Linked DNA regions of Homo sapiens. Changing the gene in region 1 together with any one later gene gives a genetic interaction. Each region holds a gene or a part of one and is shown in the gene's direction. Other genes may lie near its edges. The genes, in order: DAZAP1 and DEPDC5.

What was found.
Region 2: changes in DAZAP1 (region 1) and DEPDC5 together harm fitness more than expected from each alone (negative genetic interaction), as found in Homo sapiens cells (one large-scale study listed by BioGRID).

What each region holds. Positions count from the first base shown.
Region 1 is NC_000019.10:1,424,347-1,428,163, forward strand, and holds part of DAZAP1 (DAZ-associated protein 1), read left to right. Parts: intron 1-1,531; coding exon 1,532-1,614; coding exon of another isoform or gene 1,615-1,615; intron 1,616-3,817. UniProt on the Homo sapiens protein: RNA-binding protein, which may be required during spermatogenesis.
Region 2 is NC_000022.11:31,903,989-31,906,562, forward strand, and holds part of DEPDC5 (GATOR1 complex protein DEPDC5), read left to right. Parts: intron 1-1,995; coding exon 1,996-2,078; intron 2,079-2,216; coding exon 2,217-2,509; 3' UTR 2,510-2,574. UniProt on the Homo sapiens protein: As a component of the GATOR1 complex functions as an inhibitor of the amino acid-sensing branch of the mTORC1 pathway.

The sequences.
Region 1 (3,817 bases):
TCCCCCTCCCCCTCCCCCCTCCCCCTCCGTCTGGTTGCAGACACTGCGTGCACAGTCACGCTCAGGTGCACACGTGTGCTCAGGACGGTGGGAGGCTCCTGAACCACAGTGACCTTTGTCCCCTCACAGTCTGAGCTGCCCTTTCTGCCCCGTTTCCATCTTTCCCCGCCCCCAGTTTTGCTTGTCCTGTTTCTGCCTGGTCCCAGCTACAGCAGCCCTGGCCCCTGTCTCTTCAGCTTGAGAGGCCCCACAGTAGGCTGCTCCTTCCGGGGGCCGTTGCCTGTTCCCACCCCCCACGGCCCTTCTCTGCCGCGCTCGTTCACGCCTCACGCCCGTGCTGCGCTGTCCCCTGCTGTGTGGTGCCTTGTCACGCACCCTGTGCCTCTGGCGCGGGCAGCCCATCTTCAGCCCGGTCTCAGCTCTTCCCATGTCCATCTTTGTTCTGTGAGGTCTTGGGCAGCTGTCTGCCGGGCACTTCCATCTGGGGAGGGGCTGGTGCCGCCTGGGCCCCGCCTCGGGAGGACGGTGTGCTTTGCGGTGTCACGCTCCACCTAGCCGGGGAGGCCTGGAGAGCCCGGCGCACTCCTGCGCCTAGAGGAGGAGACCCGCCCCGTTAGCCGGGGGCCGCGCCCACCCCAGACCCACTAAACTTCGTTTATACTGCCACTCTTGTGTTTGGGAAATGCTAAATTTTTTTTGCCTTTAAAATTTTCTGTTTTGATCCCATGGTGCATCTCGCTCTTGCTGCTGGCAGCAGAGTCTGACCTGCTGGAACCCGTTGTGGCCTGTATCTTTGTGCATTGTTTCTCTACCTGTATAGAACATGCATAGATGTCTACGATATGACCTCTTCTAGGACTCCTTGGGCTTACCCAACGGTGTTGCGTAAGCCTAGCGAGGCACCAGCTATGATAGATACTGTATCTGTTAACGCTTTAGAACGATATATGGCTGCTGTCAGCACTAGCTGCAAAGCAAATTGCAAGCCAAGGGGGAGAATCCTGGGTTTCAGAGAAGCATACACACATCCACGGTGCACACCCCTGACTAAGATGGCGCATTCCACGCGGGCCCCCGGCCTGCAGGGTTCACTGGCAATCTCCCCACAGGCGAGAGCCAGAATATTCAAGCACGGGCCTCTGACCCTCCCCTGGGGGGCGCTTTGTCTGCCAGTAGCGATGGAGGCCCTCACCGTTCCCCTGTCTCCGCTGCTGTTTTATAAGATGTGCTCCTTGTTCCAAATCTTTGTGACACGGAGCCCCAGCCCGGGGTGTCTGGGGCGGAGGCTTGACTCAGGCCTCAGTCAGCAGAGCCGTCACCGGGAGTGCGGACGTCACCGTCTGTCCACTCCGTGTGCAGTCGAGTGGTGGCTCCTGGGGAGGGAGGCAGCTGCCCCAGGGGCCCGCAGCGCCCCACACACAGCTTAGCTGAAACCCAAGGTCGATCCCTCGGCCCGTCCCTAATACTGTTCATCATCCTGTTTTGTGTCACAACACCCTGCTACCTTGATTCACTCTTCGTCGTTGGCTAGGTTTTGGATTTATTACTTTCGAGGACGAACAATCAGTGGACCAGGCTGTCAACATGCATTTTCACGACATCATGGGCAAAAAAGTGTGTAGTTGTAGTTTTATTTTACCTTAAGACCAAACCAAGTCTTAGGCAACTTAGGGGTTTCACTGGAAAGGAACATTCCTTCACGGAAAGGGTCGGGCGAGTTCGTCCTGTGAACCTTTGCTGCGTGAGGTGGGCCTGGGTCTGTAGACGTGAGGAGGGTCCCATCCTTCCCCAGCACCCTTCCTGCGGGGTGGGGATCTCTCAGCTTTGCTCCTGGAGCCCCTCCCTCTGGGTGACCTGGGACTGGGCGGGTAGGGGGCTGGGGCTGGGAGGCTGTGGCGGTGTTGGGGCTGGCTCCAGTGAAACCGCAGCGTTGCCTCAGGCTTGGTTTCCACGACCACTCCTTCAGATGTCTGCAAATCCCCATTGTCTGACACTGACCTGTAATGTGATCAGCAAGGGACCTTTGAGAGCCGAGGTTCCGCTTAAAATGGAAAGCACAGTGGAAACATCATGAAGGACTGGTTGTTTGAATTGGGTCACTTACTGTGGAACTCCGGCACCAGCCACATGCTCTCGGTAGTACTCAGCCACCATGCAGTCAAGTGACCTCTGGTTGTGTCATCTTCATACTGTGTTACCCCCGGAGGTGAGAGGGACAGGAGGCCACCCCCCCAACCCCCAGGCCAGCCCTTGGAAGGCATGTGTCAGAAAGGGGTCCCTAAATCCTTGTTTTACCTGGACCCTTGGAGGTTCTTGAGAAGTGGACTCTGAAATAAATAACTGGTAGAAATTCTACAGTGTGGAATTTCTTGCAGTTAGCAAAAGCTTAGGGGTCCAGGTTTTTGCAGGATTCCTGTCTTGGTCCTTTCAAACCAAGGAGCTCTGCTGGCTCTGCCAGGCCGCCTCACATGCCCAGTGGGATTCTGACCCGGCCTCCTTGGTGCGGCAGCTTCTCCCGTTAACGGAAGAAGACGCTTAGCCCCTCTGACAGGGCCATGGTTGTTTTTTCAATTAAAATGTCCTGGAGGGAGCATCGTGCTCATTATCTCCTGCCCCTGCCCTCTACCCCAGCCAGAGGTCTTGATAGCAGAACTTTTTTAAAAACAGTAGCATGTGTAGTTATTTTTGTATACACGTGGCTTAGATTGGGTTGCAGACTTCATTAATTCCATTTGAACCCAACTAAAACAGGAGACACAATCCTTGTTCTGACATCGAGTGCAGCTTGTGGTTTAAAATGAGCCTGCCGGCTGCATGGGTGCGCGACAGTACAAGCAGGGCTTCAAGGAGTCTGCGCCCAGTGTTTTAAGGGACTACGACACTGACAATTTGGGGAAAGCGTGGTCTTGATATACGGGGCAGAAAGAGCTCTGTACAGTGCACACACCTGCTGCCGTCCCTGGGCAGCCCCTGGGTCCCCCCAGCCATGACTGTTCTGCGCGAGCTCCTGAGCTGGGCGACCTCAGTGTGGGTCTCGCCTTCCAAGCCAGACAGTCGTTGGAGTCCAGCTTGCCCGGCGCCGGCCTTCACTGGTTGGCTGGAGCGGCACTTGGCGTCGCCGCCGGCCCCTCATGGGGGTTTTCCGTTTGTGGAGTGTTTGGTACCGCGTGGTAGTTAACCCTCCATGCCAGGCGACTGCATTGCTGCATTCAGGTAGGAAAGGGTGAAAGAATTTTTTTTTGTTTTTGTTTTTTTAAAGTACAAGGACCGCTCTGCTTTGTAAGCAGGAACCGCAGTCCCCTGAGGAGGGTGTGTGAAGACTCGCTCATTTGAGTTCTTTGAAATGGGTCCCTTGGTCCTGCTGTCACATTGCCTTGAGCTAACGGATCCTGTTCCCATCATAGGCCGGTCCTTGGGGCATTGGGCAGGTGGGGGCTTTGTGCCTCTGTGGCTGCTGCTGTCTGTTCTCTAACAGGCAGAACTGAGGGATTCTGAACTCAGGATGTGCAGCTCTCCAGACTGAGACCCCAAGGCTGACTCCAGGTGGATCCATTGTCTCTTTATTCTCATTACGATTTATCAGAAAAGTGAGACAAATTCAGGATTCTCAAATGCTGAGGCAGCCCCGGAATTGGGGGGATCTTTCTGTTGTTAGTCCACCCATATTTTCAAGCAGGCATTAAAGGAAGGTCAGCCACTGCGCCTAGAATAAGTAGGTCAGGCCTGCTCCATCCATTGTCCCCGGCCCCGCACCCTCCTCCTGAGAAGACTGTGGCTCCTGACACGTCTAGAGAGGAAGGGCCCCGGGCTGCTGAGC
Region 2 (2,574 bases), on another chromosome or scaffold:
CTCTAAATGACACATCAGCCCACCCATAAGGTCCATCTCAGAAAGAGCTAAAAAAGTGTCCATCTTCCTCAGCCCCTAGGCTGTGACCTACAGCTCCTCCTTCATCTTCCTCAGCCCCTAGGCTGTGACCTACAGCTCCTCCTTCATCTTCCTCAGCCCCTAGGCTGTGACCTACCGCTCCTCCTTCATCTTCCTCAGCCCCTAGGCTGTGACCTACAGCTCCTCCTTCATCTTCCTTGGGGCAGGTGGAGATGATTATATCCCCTCCCCTGCCCTTACTGCGTTTCTGTCTTGCATTCTCCCTGAGTGGACAGTCAGGTGGCCAGGAACCATGTGGTTAAATTGCCTTTTTGTTCTTTCCTGGTGACCTAAGGAAGAAATGAGGTAAAAAAAAATTACTCTGGTAAAAAAAAATCAGGCTGATCCATGCTGAGGAAATCAGTAGCCTTAATTAGAAAGTAGAGAGAAAGCAGGCTGGGTGTGGTGGCTCACGCCTGTAATCCCAGCAGTTTGGGAGGCCGAAGCAGGCGGATCACCTGAGGTCAGCAGTTCAAGACCAGCCTGGCCAAAATGGTGAAACCCCGTCTCTACTAAAAATACAAAAATTAACTGGTCATGGTGGCGCGTGCCTGTAATCCTAGCTACTTGGGAGGCTGGAAGCACAAGAATTGCTTGAACCCGGGAGGTGGAGGTTGCGGTGAGCCAAGATTGTACCACTGCAGTCCAGCCTGGATGACAGAGCAAGAGTAGAGAGGATTTTGCAAAGGCAAAATCCAGAGCCAATCCTCATCATATAATCAGCCTGTAGACAGGGAGCTTACAGTGCATAGTAGCCTACCCATTTAGTTTGCATATTTGACTTCATGTATTCTTTGGTAAAAAATTATGGAATGCAGATTATGTAGAGGATACAACACAGCACCTCCCCAAGGAACTCAGTCCAGGAAAGAAGACAGGCATTTTCCCTTCTTTAGTTCTGCCTACATCACTGTCTCCATTATATAAACCCCTCAGACTTAGAGGGCAGGAGCCACATCTGTTACCACGTCCTTTACAGCTCTTAGCAGGTAGAACTGTAATAAATGTGCCTTATGGAAATAGAAAAACCAGGAATAGAACAAGCCATAGATGAAAAATGGCTCCTCCTGCCCATTTCCAGAGCACAGGGAAGCAGAGAGCCCCAGCTTGGCGTTCCTCTTTTTTTTTCTTTTTGAGATGGAGTCTCGCCCTGTCACCCAGGCTGGAGTGCAATGGCATGATCTTAGCTCACTGCAGCCTCCGCCTCCCGGATTCAAGTGATTCTCCTGGCTAATTCCAGAACAATCCTGGCTAATACAAAAATTAGCCAGGCATGGTGGCACATGCCTGTAATCCCAGCTACTCAGGAGACTGAGGCGGAGAATCACTTGAACCCAGGAGGCAGAGGTTGCAGTGAGCCGAGATCATGCCATTGCACTCCAGTCTGGGCAACAGTGCGAGATTCCCTCTCACCAAAAAAAAAGATAAGGACCTTCCCTGGAGGAATGGATAGCCTCGAGTATGCGGGTGGGTATGTGTGGCCTGTCAAGACATGAGGTAGATTCCAGTGAGAGGCCCAGGATGGGATGGGGGAGAACGCTCAGTGGGAAGGTCTGCTGGGATGGGTAGGGAACATGGTAGGAGGGACGGGCTGTCTGAGCAGAGATGAAGGCTGGATGAAGAGTGCAGCCGGTGGGAAGGCTTTCTTTCACTATGGTGGTAGTGACATGGTGGACCACGGAGATGACGGGCTGCTGGGTGTGAGGAGGTCTGGTAAGCCATGGTGTTGGAAGAGGTAGAGGTCAGAAAGTGGTGAGGGTGAGGACAAAAATAAGCAGCCTGCATGTGCAATCTGGAAAGAGATCTTTCCAGATCTCTGTGTCTCAGGCTGTCCGAGAGTCCTATCAGCTACATTCTCTTCCCTTGCCCCTTTAACTAAGGAGGCGCTGATTAGCATGTCTTCCTGTCCTTCCCTAGGTTTGGGTTTGTACAAGATAAATATTCTGCCTCTGCTTTTAACTTCCCTGCTGAGAACAAGCCTCAGTATATCCACGTTACAGGTGAGGAGCTACGGGCAGAGTTGGGCAGGTGGGTCCACATCCCTTTCCTTGCACCAAGCCTATGGCTGCAGAACCACCTCAGCAGGCTCCAGGAGCCCTCCTGGTGGCTGCCACACAGGCGCTCCCCTTTCTCTTCAGGAACAGTGTTTCTGCAGCTGCCCTACTCCAAGCGCAAGTTCTCAGGGCAGCAGCGGCGGCGGCGGAACTCCACCAGCTCCACCAACCAGAACATGTTCTGCGAGGAGCGGGTCGGCTACAACTGGGCCTACAACACCATGCTCACCAAAACATGGCGCTCCAGCGCCACAGGGGATGAAAAGTTTGCTGATCGGCTGCTGAAGGACTTCACGGACTTCTGCATCAACCGTGACAACCGGCTGGTCACGTTCTGGACAAGTTGCCTGGAGAAGATGCATGCCAGTGCCCCGTGAGGCCAGGCTGCACCTGTGCTGGGGGAAGGTGGGTGAGCCACTGCCCTCAAACCCGGGGCGGAGGA